2 separate regions of the Homo sapiens genome follow, and region 2 is linked to region 1. The links come from fine-mapping of genetic effects on gene expression. Tissue or cell type: subcutaneous fat. Region 1 holds a variant in brackets; the other region holds the start of a gene. All regions are shown on one strand. Distances are from middle to middle.

Evidence for each region. PIP is the estimated chance that this variant, and not a neighbour inherited with it, causes the effect.
Region 2: PPIL3 starts here. The variant in region 1 is the best candidate, but not a certain one, in a credible set for the expression of PPIL3 in subcutaneous fat (TwinsUK, PIP 0.65).

The regions. Positions count from the first base shown.
Region 1 is chr2:201,344,091-201,352,422 of GRCh38, reverse strand. FLACC1 (flagellum associated containing coiled-coil domains 1) reads left to right here. Exons shown (of 15, transcript NM_001127391.3): 2 at 972-1,131; 3 at 1,641-1,712; 4 at 4,121-4,169; 5 at 5,748-5,881; 6 at 8,160-8,253. The coding sequence starts at 1,019. Among named protein-coding and RNA genes, the nearest start is that of FLACC1, 9.1 kb to the left of the region's middle. The variant G/TTTTG (reference allele first, on the strand shown) is at 4,781.
Region 2 is chr2:200,885,502-200,893,827 of GRCh38, reverse strand. It overlaps PPIL3 (peptidylprolyl isomerase like 3), which reads left to right and starts at 4,751. Exons shown (of 7, transcript NM_130906.3): 1 at 4,751-4,872; 2 at 6,143-6,215; 3 at 8,056-8,130. The coding sequence starts at 6,213. It overlaps NIF3L1 (NGG1 interacting factor 3 like 1), which reads right to left and starts at 4,457. Exons shown (of 7, transcript NM_001369441.2): 1 at 4,176-4,457; 2 at 1,449-1,910; 3 at 420-582. The coding sequence starts at 1,884. RefSeq lists enhancers at 3,674-3,923, 4,182-4,926, 4,814-5,063, 3,916-5,115, 5,184-5,233 and 1 more.

The DNA.
Region 1 (8,332 bases):
AAGATAAGCCAGTGTGGTCAAGCCACCATGTTTATCTGATAGTTTTCTTTCATCAAGATTCTCATAATAGGGGTTTTGTTTTTTGGGAGCCAGGGAAGGAGTTTCCACTCTGTAATTCAAGAAGGTGACCAGGAATGAGAAACGAGGAGATTCATTTGCACTGTAGCTCAAGCAGCAGAACTAATTTTCCAGGAAGTTCTGTGCAGAACTTGCTGTGGGAATTTCTCTTCCCTTCAGTGAGAACTGGTGTGGCCTGCTGGAAAGGAAGGAGCTTGGGAGTCAAAGAGATTTGTGTTTGTTTCCAGCTCTGCAACTTGCTGCCGCCGTGACTTCTCTGAGTCTCAGTAGCTTCATCTATAGTATCAGCATAACAATAATTGAGCAGTTTTACCTGGCTCACAGCAAGGACTCGGCTATGGCAAATTTTATTTTATTTTAATTATTTTGTTTTATTTTTATTTGTATCTTATTTTATTTTTTGAGACGAAGTCTCACTCTTCACCCAGGCTGGAGTGCAGTGGCACAATCTCAGCTCACTGCAACCTCTGCCTCCCAGGTTCAAGCAATCCTCCCACCTCAGCCTCCTGAGTAGCTGGGACTATAGGTGTGTGCCACCATGCCCAGCTAATTTTTGTATTTTCAGTAGAGACGGGGTTTCACCATGTTGGCCAGGCTGGTCTCAAACTCCTGACCTCAAGTGATCCATCCACCTCGGCCTCCCAAAGTGCTGGGATTACAGGCGTGAGCCACCATGCCCAGCCAGTTATGGCAAAGTTTAAATTGCTTTCAAGTCAAGTCTACTGAGTAGAAAGGGATGAGCTGTTAACCTATAGTCAAGACCCTGCACCAGATCAACAGCTTCTGGAATCTACCATTGTTCTTTGGGTCCTCCCTGGGTTCTTCCCAATTCTTCTGTATTTTTGCTTTGATTCTAAATGGTTTAACCTTCTGCTGTTGTTTTTCAATTTCAGCAAGAGCCTCCTGATCTAGCAGCCAAGACTCCCCCTGACCTTTGGCCATGTACCCCAACCCTCTCATCTACTGCACCTGCTGGGACCCCTGGAACTTGGGACCACGGAAGCTAATCAAGACCCCTCAACTACCACGCAAGAACTCCACAGGGAGTTCCAAGTAAGAATTATCTGGGATGGGGTAGGCACAGGGACCTTGGGATCCATTTGTAGCCTCATTTCTCTCACAAGATTTCTAAAACAGCAAGTGTGGCAGGAAAATCCCAGGTGGGCCAGAAAGCCTCGCTTTCCCCAGCTTCCCTGCCAGCTGGTTGGCTGCACCCTCATCTTGCCAGCCCTGCCTGGGGTTTGTGCCATTTTAAATGAGGAAGTCTCAGTGTTGGTGCAACGGCAAAGTGCAGCTTCCAACCAAAGGGCCCTGATGGCAGCTGCCGCCTTCATGTGGGATAAAGAGCTTTGGGAATCGGGGGACAAACTCTTCCTGGGACAGTGAACAAGTGCCAGGGCCTTGGGCCTGAGTTTTAAAGGCCTCAGATTTTAAAGATTCCAGCTATCAGATCATGCATTCCAATTTTGGGTCACTATAGGGATGTACTTAATCTGGGAGTGTTAAAAAGGGTTTCCGAATTTCCAATGTTCTTGTTTTAGTTATTTGTTTTTCACTTTCAGGCTAACTCCTCTTGTACCAGCTCCAAAAAATCACAATTACCTCCAACCAACAAAACCTGTTGTTTCCCCAAAGTAAGTATTGTTTTGTTTTGTTTTGTTTTTGAGATGGAGTCTCACTCTGTTGCCCAGGCTAGAGTGCAGTGGTGTAACCTTGGCTCACTGCAACCTCTGCCTCCCAGTCTCAAGCGATTCTCCTGCCTCAGCCTCTCGAGTAGCTGGGAATACAGGTGTGCGCGCCACCATGCCTGGCTACTTTTTTGTATTTTAGTAGAGACGGGGTTTCACCACATTGCCCAGGGTGGTCTTGAACTCCTGAACTCAGGCAATCCACCCGCCTGAGCCTCCCAAAGTGTTGGGATTACAGGTGTGAGCCACTGCACCAAGCAGTTTGTTTGTTTGAGATGGAGTCTTGCTCTGTCACCCAGGCTGGAGCGCAGTGGTGCCATCTTGGCTCATTCCAACCTCCACCTCCCTGGTTCAAACGATTCTCCTGCCTTAGCCTCCTGAGTAGCTGGGATTACAGGCACCCATTACCATGCCCACGTAATTTTTGTATTTGTAGTAACGACGGGGTTTCACCATGTTGGCCAGGCTGGTCTGGAACTCCTGACCTTAAGTGACCAGCCCTCCTCAGCCTTCAAAGTGCTGGGATTACAGTCGTGAGCCACTGTGCCTGGCCCTAAGTATTTTTATGTCCATGAGGCAGAAATGGTTTCAGGCATGTGAATAAAATAATCTCCCTCTCACCTGGCCTGACTTGAACTAATTGATGCCAGGGATGTTAGAGAATTGCCAGAATCGACCTTGATTTCTTGCAAACCTCAGATCCTACATGTAGATTTTGGGGTCCTCTGCATCCACAGCTTCCAAAGTCATTGCATTGTTTGATTCAAAGTCACTGTATCCACTGCTCTCCACAGGGGTGCCCCCAGTAACTGTCTTCTGCCCTGGAGCCCAAAGCTTGATGTGTGCTATTGTCACAGAGCCTTGGCGACCCTCCCGTGCATTTAGGGTGGTGACTCACTCTTTAGCTGATTACTGTCCTGTGTCTAAGATTTTCTATGGGTTGCATCTTGGTTTTAATCACAAATTAAAATTTTTACTCGCATTTTACAAGCTTAGAAATGTACCTTAGTTTTAGGTCTTTGTATGAATCTTTGTATTCCATTAATTTTTTTGGAAAATATTTATTGACCACCTATTATTTATTAGGCACTGTTTCAGGTGCTGGGAAAAGAGCCAGAAACACAATAAAGTCTCCACTCTCCTGGCACTTATATTCTAGTGGGGAAGGAAGGGGAAGAGGACCATAAACTAGTTATTACATCCGAGGTTGGCAAGTGCTACATAGAAAAAAGATGCAGGCAAAGCAGGTAGGGGCTGTGACGGTGGGGATACTTTACGTAGAGAGGTCAGGGCAAGTGCCTGTGTAAAGGGGGCAAAAGGAGCCTCAATGATGCCTGGGGCAAGCACTCTTGGCAGAGGGACCAGCAAGTCCAAAGGCCCTGGGGTGGGAACTTGCTTGGCATGTCTGACCTCTTCCAGGAAGGCAGAAGCCAGTGTGGCATGAGCGGAGCGAGTGAGCAGGGAGTGGTGGGAGATGAGCTCAAAGAAGGTAACAAGGTGATGGGTGTGGTGGGCAGGACAGTGACCCCCTCCCAAGGACGTCTACACCCTAATACCCAGAGACTGTGAATATGTTACTTGCCAAAGAGGAATTAAGGCTGCAGATGGAATTAAGGTTGCTAATCAGCTGACCTTCAGTTGGAGAGATTATCCTGGATTATCCCAGATCCCATGTAATCACAAAGGTCCTTCTTTGTATGTGAAAGAGGAGGTCACAGTGTCAGAGTCAGAGAAGGAGCTGTGACAACAGAAGCAGAGGTTGGAGTGATGCAATTGCTGCTGGCTTTGGAGCTGGAGGGAAAGGCCACTGTGAACATATACACATATGTGGTATTCATTTTATATATAGCATATATAAAGATTTGAATGAAAAACAAGTTTAACTTCAACATTTGTATCTTAATGGGATACATTTCATTTTCTGGAACATTTGTTTATATAGAATGTTTCATTCTCCAATAAAGAGAGTTCCACACAGTTCCCTGAACTGAGTGTGTGTGTGCCCGTTTGTGTGTAAGGGGGTGGTGGGGGGTGTCACCTGACTCACAGAGCCTTGACTCAGGGAGAATATGTAGGGGTCCCTCTAGCTGGTTTATGCTCCTCCAAAACAGAAGTTGCCCCAACATCATAAGACAAGTCTTTTGCCTCCTTGGGCAGGACCTTTTCATGAGCACCCCTACTTTGGGGCCCTCAGGAGCCCGGCTTCAGTGAGTTCCCCAACTATCCTAGGGATCCCCTAAGAAGGTCAGGTCAGAGAGCAGAAGTCAGATGGTGGCGGCCTCAGGGTTCAGCTCCTAAGCTTTGAACTTCTCTTTGCTGTCTGGTTGCTTTCTGAGCATGTCTTTCTCTTGCAGAATGAAAATCCATTCAGCAAGGCAAGAAGAGACTAATAAATCATTTTATGTGAGTAAAGGCAGGAGAGGGCGGTGGGACTAAAATTTATTGAGTGCCTACTATGTGCAAGCATGGGCCCTTTACATTTTTATACTTACCTTGTCGAATCTTCACAAAGATCCTGGGAGGAGGTGCTGTTAATATTGCACATTATGCACGGCAGGTAAGTGGAAGAACCACGACTTGAACTCAGCTCAGCTAGATTCCAGAGTGGGCATTTAATTGCCACTCTCTCCTGCCTTGCACAAGACAAACAGAGTGTCTCAGAGAAACTGGACATGACAGCTAGTCCAGGCCAGTGAACAGCTCATGCCTAGATGCAGGAAGTGCTCTGCTGACCTAGGGAACTAACGAAAGCTGGGGAGAGGCTGCCGGGACCCCTCAGGGGAGCAGGGGCGGGAGGGCACTGGAGAAGGTGATGAGAACCAAACTCGAAGGCTCTTGACGCCTGCCTGGGAGTGTGGGCCCGACCCTTCTGGTGTCTGGGAGCCTTTACTGGTCTGACGCAGGCACAGGACCAAGTAAGAGTTACATTTCAGAAAAAGCACCCTTTGGTGGGATGTAATCGGTACATTTTACTGTTTTCTGTGTTTATCTAGTTTCTTTTCTTTCTTTTTTTT[G/TTTTG]TTTTGTTTTTTAGTTTTAGGTCTTTGTATGAATCTTTGTATTCCATTAATTTTTTTGGAAAATATTTATTGACCACCTATTATTTATTAGGCACTGTTTCAGGTGCTGGGAAAAGAGCCAGGGAAAAGAGCCATGCAGTCCTTTAATGGTTAGGGAAAAAAATATACAAGCAAAAATATAATTGCCCTCTAGGTAGAGAGGAGGATGAACTGTGGGGGGAGCAAGACTGAAGGCAGAGAGGCCAGAGCCCAAGAGAAAGATGATGGTGGCCTGGGGCCGTCAGGCAGGGGTGTGGAGAGAGGAGGGTGACTCACAGAGACATGAAGGAGGTGACAACAGCAGGGATCAAGGGGCTGCAGCATGTGCTGCGCAGCTCTCAGAGCCCCAGCCTTGCCCTGGTCCAGGCCAGCAGAGGCCCTGCCCAGGTTTCTGACTTGGCGTCTAATGGGAAAAGGAGGAGGAAATGACATTTTGTTTGCAACCGTCCTAGTCATTTTCTCATATGTTGTTTTGTTTTTCCCTCACAAAAGCCCTTTGAGAAAGAGTTATTAACCCCACTTTCTGATAAGGAAACTGAGGCACAGAGATGCTGGATGGCTACTGTCTGGTGGCAGAGCCAAGATTTACTCAGGCCTCTGTGATTCCAAAACCCGAGCAGTTGCCGCATGCCCACCTCCTCTGGGCTCTGGCCACGAGGGTGAACACAAGTCGGGGGCAGGGGCATCAGTGGCTTGGTTTGGCGCAGAGCTTGAGAGGCCCCTAGGGACACCCAGGAGCCTGCTAAGCATCAGATTTGAGTCGGAGAGATGTGAGAATGAGCTATAATGGGTGAAGGGCCCAGAAGGGCTTGGGCTGTGGAGTCCCAGGTCCCTGTTTTTAAGATGTGAGTGAGGCAATAAGAGAAGATTTGGAAAAATCTCAGCACTCCAAGTCTGCCATTTTATCTTACTTTCCCTTGATGCCTAGGAAGTGATCAACGTGTCACCTGGCTATCAACTTGTTCGGAATCGGGAACAGATTTCTGTCACCTTAGGGGATGAGATGTTTGATAGGAAAAAGCGGTGGGAATCGGAGATCCCGGACAAAGGCAGATTTTCCAGGTAATGCTGTTGCAGCAACATGCAGCTGCTTGGGGCTACTCCCACCCAGCTCAGCCCGGCCTCAGGGACAAGCCAAAGCCGCTATGCCCACACCCAGGCCACTGGTCCCTGCTCTGGAGGGGCCGCAAGGGCACCTCCCTCCTCGCCCCTGCTTCCTGATGATGCATCTCTCCACATCTGCCTCTCTGCTCTGATCCCATCCGTGAGCAGATCCAAGGGGCAGGATGAAGATTGGGAGTTATGTGATTGATCCCAAAGGATAGCAATTGTTCGTGGGGTGAGGAATAGATAGAATAGCCATAAATTAGTCTGAATTTGAGGCATGCAAATTAAGTAAAGTGAGGGTTTCTGGGTGGCTGGAGTGCACTTTTTTTTTTGAGACAGAGTCTCTCTCTGCCACCCAGGCTGGAGTTTAGTGGCACGATCTCAGCTCACTGCAACTTCTGCCTCCCAGGTTTAAGCTATTCTCACGCCTCAACCTCTTGAGTAGCTAGGATTACAGGCTTGCACCATGACGCCCGGCTAATATTTATAGCTTTAGTAGAGATGGGATTTTGCCATATTAGCCAGGCTGTTCTCAAACTCCTGACCTCAGGTAATCCTCTGGCCTCAGCCTCCCAAAGTGCTGGGATTATAGGCGTGAGCCACTGCGCCCAGCCTCTTTTTCATTATGTCCAAAAATACTACTCAGCTCATGCCCCCGGGAGATGCAGTGTGGAAGGTTCTGGCCTGACTCTAACCCATTAGCACAGCTGTCCTGTCTGTCTTCAGGCTCCACCCACTCTCTGTCCTCCAATGCCATATCAAGTATATCTCCATGTCTTTCTTTTTTCATTAACAGATGCAGATTCATCTCTACATCTTTTCATTCTACCCTTTAATCTCTTATTCATATCTTCTTCTCTGATATCCTGCCCATGTTCAGGCATCTTACTTCTTAACTGCACTACTGAATGGCTCTCCAAGTGCCTCTTCCCTCAGGCTGATTTTGCTGTAAGAATTATTTTTTCAACACACAAGTCTAAAAGACCAACAATAGAAAACACACACACACATACACACACACACACACACACACACACACACACACAATCATCTACCTATCTGCTAGTGTATTGGCAGAATTCAACCAAACCGTTAGCAGTGGTTACATCTGGGGAAGGGATTCAGGTTGAGGGTGAGTCTGAAGGCCCCTCAAGTAGAATGAGGCCATGCCATGGAGTCTCCCTGATCTGACCTGGCCCAGAGGGCCACCCAGGGGCCAGGGGCATTCACCCTGCTTATCTTGTCTTCCCACCCAGGGGCATTCAGCCTCTGCTTTCTTTTCCCTGCTTATCCACAGCCCTCTGCAGGAAGAGAATGGGTCATGCACCTATAGTCAAGCTAGCACCGACAGCCACCTCTTGGCCTCACAAGGAAGTTGTCACCAGTTGTGCACAATAAAATATGATAACCTGTGCTTGTTGTATTCCCTGGTAAAGTTGTGGGTGTTGTTTGTATTGAAGATTGTGTTCAAAAGATAGGGGCTCCCTATTATTCAACTTTCTCAAGCCTTTTCTTTCTCTTACCCTTGAACTGTCTCCTCCTGTATCTCCTCTCTTGTTTTATCAGCCCACATTCTCTCTGTGCTCAGTTAGACATGCAAAGTGGTTGGCCAAAGAGGTCAAAGCATCTTGCATTGAGGACTTCCTCTCAGCTCCACTGCACATGGCACCACCTGCTGCCTTGTCACTCTAGCCCAACCAGACAGAGCTAAATAATTTACAGATACCATGGCAGCCTTAGACCCAGAAACACAGAAAACCATGACCTGTGCTGAAAGCCACTCTCTTAAATACCCTCTTAGTCCCATCTCTGGCCCAATCCTTGTCTGTGGTTCACAGCCAGCATCAATCCTATTGCACATCTTCTAATTTCCTAATCCTCTGAACTTCGTCCTCTGTTTCAACTATCATTACCAAATCAAGGTCAAACTCTAATAAATTTCTGACATATTCTTATTTTCCTTCTATTCGGTAGGGCACCAAACCATCCTGTTCAAGTCTAGTGAGCTTACCCACAAGAGCCAGATCTGAGCCTCAACTGCCCTATAGCCAAATGCCTTCTGTAAGACCACCCCTATCCCTCCACCCCCACCCCATAATGATAGAGCAGGTGCAGAACATGGCCAGCTCTCACCAGGCCAGCTCTCACCATGCCAGAGTCAGTCATGCTCAGGGGCCTGAATGGCATGGAATGGTAAGCTTTGTGGATGATAGAAGAATTACTTCTCCTACAGGACCAACATCATTTCTGACCTAGAAGAGCAAATCTCAGAGCTGACAGCAATAATTGAACAAATGAACAGAGACCACCAGTCTGCCCAGAAATTGGTGAGTGACCTTACATTAGCTAACATCTTCATGGACAAAATAAAATTAATATTTTTGAATCACCTATGTGCCAGGCAAA
Region 2 (8,326 bases), 460 kb after region 1:
AAAGACTGATTTATGAAAATATATATTTAAAATGTAAAGATAAATATAAAAAAGCACTTGGGAATCACTGATTTGCTGGGAACCAATAAAAGCCTTATCACCACATCACTAGGATCTATCTGTATTCTCTAAAGTAAAAACAACTATCTTTGAACATTACCAGGATTAGAAATACTGTAGGTAAAATGCATAGTATAGTCCCCTGACATAGAAAATACTTAGTGTTACTTACCGTTTTTATTGTTTTGAAAAAATTCCATAGTTCTCCAGGACCCACAAACAAATGAGGAGTATGCTACTTTGTAAATCAACTCCAGAGAAAACTATTTGTTTCAAGCCTAAATACCAGGGTTATAGACTTTGTAAGGAAGATGCTTACCAATAAATACACACAAAAAAAAGAGAAAAATAAATTGTACCTAGCAGAAAAAGAAGTGACAGAAACACCGTCAATTCCTTTCACTGCAGACATGACTTTGTCCAGGTCTTGGGTGTAGTTAACGTTGAATTCTACTCGGTGGTTTCCCTCTGTAGGGTAGTTGGGAGCTTTGGAAGGATGTATGGGCCTGGAGGTACAAGCTCCTAGAGAAAATATTGTGGGAAAATGGGAGTTTTGGGGGGTGAGAGATTAAGATTTAAAAGTAAACTATTATAGGCAAAATTTCTAAGAAATGACTTTTTAAAAAGATTCATTCTCATGCTTACATAACATACACACATCCCTTAGATATACATCACCAGTCCCCATAATCTAGGGCTTTGGCATGGACATACAAAATCAAATTATTTTCAGAATTATTTTCCAAAAGATTCTTAAATCTCTGAAAAACTTGGACAAGAAAGACTGATTCATACATTTTCAGATAATACACAGAATGGTCTACTGCTTGGTAAATCTAGCCATGTAAACCATCATTCAGGTTGCAAATGCTCATACTTTATTTGACCACATTAATCCAGATATCATCATAAAAGCTTTAGCCCAAAATGAGTAAACTAAAGACTTACTAAAATAAAGCTAAAATCCATCCATCATTCCCTCATTGTGCTAGGCATAAGTAAACATTCACTAAAAACATTCATTAAAACCCTGATGTCTATTTACTTGACTTATCAATCAAGTGTATTCTGGAGAGGCCTGAGCTTTCAATTCAACAAGCATTTTCCAAGTGCCTGGGTGACAGGCATTGTGCCACAAAAGTGAGGAATCATGAAGCTCAGTCCAGTAAGGAAGACTTCTGCTCTCCTTACTCCATAAGAATAAAAAATGTTTCCTTTTTCAAATGCAATTTAACTGCCAAATTTCAGCAACATTATTTTAAAATTATTATATAAAAATGGAATCATGCCCTCCCCAACCCTAAAGCAGTTAAAACTTTACTGGAAAGACATCCTAAAGTTTCAAAGTATTTGCAGGGAAAATATCAAATATGAAAGAGGCTTCTCACCAAGCCCTTTAGCCAACCAGTTGTTGACGCCCTGGGGCGCAGCATCATAGGCTGTATGAGGAGAGTAGATACCGACTCTGTTCTCCAGAGCCCGGATCACCAGGCGCTCCTTCCATGTGTTCCAGGTTATGCGCTTCATGGGTCGGAAGATAGGCGGATGGTAGGAGAGAATGAGGTCTGCCTTCTTTTGCAGCACCTCCTCCATCACTTCCTCAGTCAGGTCATTGGTCAGGAAGAGTGTATTTACAGTATGTGGTGGGCTTGGTTCCACCAGTAATCCAACATTGTCCCAACTCTCAGCAAACGAGAGGGATGCAAAGTCATTCAAGGAAGAAAGGAGAGCCTTCAAATCCATGAAGGAACGGGAAGAATTGCAGATCAGGGAATCTACAAACCGGACTGTCGTGGGGACTGGGCGTACGCAAGATGACAACATACAGAAATCAGGTAAAGTTCAAGTTTCTGATGTCAAAACAAAGAAAATGGTACACAGGTATACTTTAGGCCTGGATCTTTGAGGCATCAAAACATATGGGCAAAAGAGCTGTCGTCATAGAGATCTGGGTTCAAATAGTGGCTCTGCCACTTACCAGCACACTGTAACTTAGGTAAGCCATTTAACCTCTCCAATCTTGTTTTCTCACCTACGAAACAGAGATACTATAACCCACTTCACAGGCCATCCAGAGGAGCTAATGAATTATGTAACCTAGCAAAGCCTGGTACATAATACACAAACGTCCATCCCATCTCCTGCCTTGCACACCCTTGTTCTTATTCTCCCTACCCTTGCTTCAACCAACCTCCTCCCTAATCCATTTCTCTAAATATTACCTTTCCTTTTCCCAAGCCCCCTCCAACTTCTTAAATAAAACTTTTCTTGACCTCCCTTTTCAGCATCCTTCCCAAGGCTCCCCACCCCTCAGTATTCTCATAATTCTGTGTGTGCCCATTATGCTAAAGCTACTATGTAATAGGAACTAACTTCAATAAATCTCAGTATCACTAATATAAGCCAGCACTAAATGCTTACTGCATAGAATGACACTGCCCGCCTCCCCTGATTGCAACAGAATTTGGAGTTGGGGTGGTATATACTGGCATTACAATGTGCTTTACCAAAAAACAGAATAATGTGGCGGGGCGCCTGTAATCCCAGCACTTTGGGAGGCCGAGGCGGGAGGATCACAAAGTCAAGAGATAAAGACTATCCTGGCCAACGTGGTGAAACCGTCTCTACTAAAAATACAAAAATTAGCTGGGCATGGTGGTGTGCACCTGTAGTCCCAGCTACTCGGGAGGCTGACGCAGGAGAATCACTTGAACCTGGGAGGCGGAGGTTGCAGTGAGCCAAGATCATGCCACAGCACTCCAGCCTGGCGAGAGAGCAACACTCCGTCTCAAAAAGAAAAAAAAAAAAAAAAAGAATGTTTAAAATGTCAAGTGCTTTATCAGAATCAAAAATCAAGGAATACATAGGCAGGTCACTCTATAAATGGGCAGGGTCAAGGCAGAAGAAGGGAGAAGCCACTGCCCCTTAAGCAACATTTGCTACACAAAGGCCAGGCTCAAGAGGTGGGAGGGGATAAGGTATAGGGTACTTTTCCCAGACAGCCTGTAAGCCTTCTAAGTATCTACATCCAACAAGGAACTGAAAAGGTTGGCAACAGAGGGAAGGTGGGAGGGCAATGGAAAGGTAGAAAAAAACTGCTGGCTCCAAAATATGCACAATTAGTAAATGTTTAATCAAATAACCACAAAAGATAATGCTGTCAACCCCATTCTTAAACTTACCACTTATAAACACTTTTTGAAGAAAAACATTTCATAGTATGCACAATAAGAAAGCATAGCCAACTGTAAATTTGATGAAATATCCATAAGTCAATTATTCCAAAAGCAATTTTTCAACATTTCTATTTAATGAGATGAAGATGCTTGTTTAACACATTATTTGAAGTGATACAGGGTCTCCAAAAACCACTCGAGGTCTTGGAAGTTTGTTTTTGTTTTTTTCTTTTTGACACAGGGTTTCACTAGGCGCCTAGGCTGGAGTGCAGTGGCGTGATCTCAGCTCACTGCAGCCTCGACTTCCTGAGCTCAAGCAGATCCTCCCACCTCAGCCTCCTGAGCAGCTGGGACTACAGGCGCTAAACACCACACCTGGCTAATTTTTGTATTTTTAGTAGAGATGGGGATTCGCCATGTTGCCCAGGCTGGTCTCAAACTCCTGCGCTCAAGTGATCCACCTGCCTCGGCCTCCAAGAGTACCGGGATTACAGGGGTGAGCCACTGCGTCCGGCCTTGAAAGATCTTCTAATGGTCCTCATAGTACTCCATTCTCCAGCATTTTCTACATCTGGCAAGCTCGAAAGTGAAACCCTAGTGGGCCATCATGCAGGTTTTGAGTTATTTACTGTTACAGATGAGGAAACTGCGAAGCTACATGGCCACAGTCAACAACGACAACAGAAGGCAACATAGTATGGCGGTTAAGAGCACCGACTCTGAAGCCAGCCTGAATCCTAGAGCCAGAGCTGTGCAACAGCAGGTAAATGACTTATCCTGTGCAGTTTCCTCCTTAATGGAAATAGTGCCCAGGCCACAATATCGCGAGATTTACACGTAAAGCTGGAAACAACTCCCGTCCTAGAGTAAGCACTGTTTACTATTAAGCAGCATCAGTAGGGCCCCTTTGCAACCTGCAAACCGCTCCCTCGACGTTACCTCATCTATGCCTCATTTCAGTGCCACTTCAGGCCTTTTCCAGGACAGTGAAAAACCACGAGACACAGCCAGTTAAGTCTGAGTCAGGACCCCTGTCCCACTAGTGCGCTGTGCTCTGGTGCGGCAGGGCAGTTTTCTGACCCAATCTCCTCTTCTGCTGTCCTCTGCAGCACCAAGATAACAATCACAGCCGGCCCCAACCGGCACCTACCGCGAAGGTCACAACTACACTCGCGGGTTTTTAAATCGCCCACTACTCACCAGTCCCGGAAACTTCTCTGCGTCACTTCCGGTCCCGCGTCGGCGCTCCGGATGCTGTGGCACTTGGCTCCCCGTAGCGGGAGAGCTGGGCGGAAGTGGTCCTTTCCGTTTGGCAGCCGAGTGTAAAGCATTGCTTGAGGTTGCCCAGGTAGTTTCGCCTTACACTTCTTGTCCCAGTGCAATTATTAGTAGAGCTCCCTTTCACTGTCAAATTTCCGGTTGGGGATAAATTGCATTGTCGTTTTGGTTTGAGATAGGAAGATGAGGGGAGGAAGGAGGTGAGGCGGTAAGGGGCGTTCTCTCTCTTGGGTCCCGCGCCCAACTTCCGCTGGCCCAAAGAAACTATAATTTTGAACCAACAGACCTCTGCTGGCATCTGCGATTGCATTTTTCCTGTTTTAACAACGGCTGTGCTAGACGAAGTGGTGAAGCCCAAGTATGGAGTAACGTCATTAATTCTTTCATTCACTTATTCGAATGCTTGCTGAGTTCTGTGTTGCTACTGGTTTAGTTCTTGGGATACTGCGAGTGAACAGTGGGCGGCGAGGCTGTTGTTGCAACGTCAGAGTAAAAGAAGGACCCTGCACGGCGGCCTCCCAGCACTTCGGGAGGCCGAGGCGGGCGGATCACCTGAAGTCAGGAGTTCGAGACCAGCCTGGCCAACACGGCGAAACCCCGTCTCTACTAAAAATACAAAAATTAGTCGTGCATGGTAGCGCGCGCCTGTAGTCCCACCTACTCGGGAGGCTGAGACACGACAATCACTTGAACCCGGGAGGCGGAGGCGGAGGTTGCAGTGAGCCGAGATCCTGCCGCACTGCACTCCAGCCTGGCGACATAGCGAGACTCCGTCTCAAAATGAAAAAAAAAGAGAAGTTCATAGTATATTAGTGATAAGTGCTGTGGTGGAAAAAAAAAAGTTCATAGTATATTAGTATAAGTGCTGTGGTGAAAAAAAAAAAAAGCGAATTTCATAGTATATTAGTGATAAGTGCTGTGGGAGAAGGAAATAGGAATGTCCTAGGGCTGAAGGGCTAAAGCAGTTCTGTGTAGGATTGTCAGGTCAGTTAAACTTGACATTTAAGCAGAAATTTGGAGGTGAGGAAATTAGCCGTAGAGATGTCTGAGTATAAGAATTCCAGGCAAAAGGGACACCCAATGCCTGGACCCTAAGGGAAGGTATCTGGGTTATTGGGGGACTTGCAAGGAGGCTCTTGAAGAAGAGCAAGCCGGGCAAGTAGGAGATTGGGAGGCTTGAATCGGGTAGGATATCTTCTATAGCCGGGTTTTTATTACCTAGGGGATGCCATTAGAGGATTTTTTTTTTTTTTTTTTTTGACGGAGTCTCGCGCTGTCACCCAGGCTGGAGTGCAGTGGCGCGATCTCAGCTCACTGCAGCCTCCGCCTCCTGGGTTCAAGTGATTCTCCTGCCGCAGCCTGCTGAGTAGCTAGGACTACAGGCGCCTGCCACCACACCCGGCTAATTTTTGTGTTTTTAGTAGAGACGGGGTTTCGCCATGTTGGCCAGGCTGGTCTCGAACTCCTGACCTCAAGTGATCCACCCGCCTCGGCCTCCCAAAGTGTTAGGATTATAGGCGTGAGCCACCACGCCCGGCGAGGTTTTTATTTAAAATGTTCAGTAAAGATGAGCGTGTGTGAGTTAAGACAGGAAAATGAGCCTAATTCTTTTTTTCTTTTGGGACTAGAGACTTATTTTTGAGCTCGCTGTAAGACTGAGAAATCACGTAGTCCTTCCTGAAACCACTAAGAGGAAAAATGGTAAGTTTTGAGCAATTTTTATCTAATGTCTTTCATTATAAGTAATTTTTAGAAATTCAGTCAAGGGCAATAAAAGTTCATGGAAATTGCAGTGGCAAGATGGAGAAATTGTATAATATAGAAGCACTTAATATGGAATAATTCTTTTAAAAAATACACAAAATTGCTTTAAAATTCTTTAATGTTGTCACTTAAAATGCACAGAATTTACCTTTTTTTTTTTTTTTTTTTTTGAGTTTCACTCTTGTCTCCCAGGCTGGAGTGCAGTGGTGTAATCTCGGCTCACTGCAGCCTCTGCCCCTGGGTTCAAGCGATTCTCCTGCCTTAGCCTCCCCGGTAGCTGAGATTACACGCGCCTGCCACCACGCCCAGCTAATTTTTTGTATTTTTAGTAGAGATGGGGTTTCGCCATTTTGGGCAGACTGGTCTCGAACTCCTGACCTCAGGTGATCTGCCTGCCTTGACCTCCCAAAGTGTTGGAATTACAGGCGTGAGCCAACTCGCCCAGCCAGAATTTACCTTTTATGGAGAAAGATTGATTACAAGATAGATAGAAATGGAAAGGGAGAGTTGAAGGAGCAGAAGAGAATAGACAGGTCTGACAATTTTAATTGGATTATTTTGCTCTAGATCTAAAGTGGGCAACTAGGCTGGGCACAGTGGCTGACACCTGTGATCCCAGCACTTTGGGAGGCGGAGGTGAGAGGACTGCTTGATCCCAGGAGTTCAACACCAGCTTGGGCAACACAGTGAGGCCCCCGTCTCTACTTTTAAAAAAACAATTAAATAAAGTGGGCAACTAGAACCTGAAGTAGAAAAAGGCAATGAGAATAGTGCCCTGCTTCTCCCACACACATCTTTAACCTGCTCATACTCTCTAACTGCTAGGCCAGGCGCGGTGGCTCACGCCTGTAATCTCGGCACTTTGGGAGGCAGAGGTGGGCCAATCACTTGAGGTCAGGAGTTCGAGACCAGCCTGGCCAACATGGTGAAACCCTGTCTCTACTAAAAATACAAAAATTATCTGGGTGTTGTGGCATATCCCAGTAATCCCAGCTACTTGGGAGGCTGAGGCAGGAGAATTGCTTGAACGCAGGAGGTGGAGATTGTAGTGAGCCGAGATCACGCCACTGCACTCCAGTGTGGGCGACAGAGCAAGACTCCACCTCAAAAAAAAAAAAAAGGAGAAATGAAAAAGGAACCCTCCAAATTGTTTTCTCCCTCTCTGGAATACAGTATCATATCAAGGGGTATACAGGTTACAGAAAAACAGGTACAACAAAAACAAAAAGCAAGCAAGAAAGCACTGTGGTTATCTCTGCACATTTAAGATTTAGAAACACTGACACTTGTTATATTTTTGTTAGTCGAGAAAGGAATTATTTTTTAACCCTATTTCTCAGAATTAAATTACCTAAGGAAAATGGTGGAAATTATGTTTTGAAAAATCATTTTCTCATCATTTTTCTATAAATAAGGATGTTGGTGAATTGCCATGTACATCAATAATACATAACAATTGTTTTTATTTTTCTTGATAAAAAATTCAAAGTTAAAATAATTCTTTCCATCAAAATATTTACTTCCAAATTTTTGTCATGGATACTACTTAACCCTAACATTTATATTCTGGAGTTTTTTCTCTACTGTTGGGATCAATTTTGAGAAAAAAGTACAACTTAACCTCTAAGAGCTGCTTTGTGGATGGGTCATCTCTGAAGCAGTATTTCTGTCTGTTTTTATTCAGATTATCATCTTGAATATCCACACAGGGAAATAAACAATGCATAAAGTCACCTAAATAAATTTCATTTGTTCTCACATTTTCTCTCCTTTTTAGTCTGTGACACTGCATACAGATGTAGGTGATATTAAAATTGAAGTCTTCTGTGAGAGGACACCCAAAACATGTGAGGTAAGTACTATTATTTACATATTCAACATCAGTTAATACAACAAGATAAGCACTTTGGAATTGAATAATCTAACCTAAATAACAACAACAAAACTTTCTGTAAAACCATTGTTAGGGAAAACTAGCCATCCTAACTTCTGGCCTGATTTCCACTTATTTGTCCAATGTCAAAGGTGGATCAAAGAGAACGTAGATA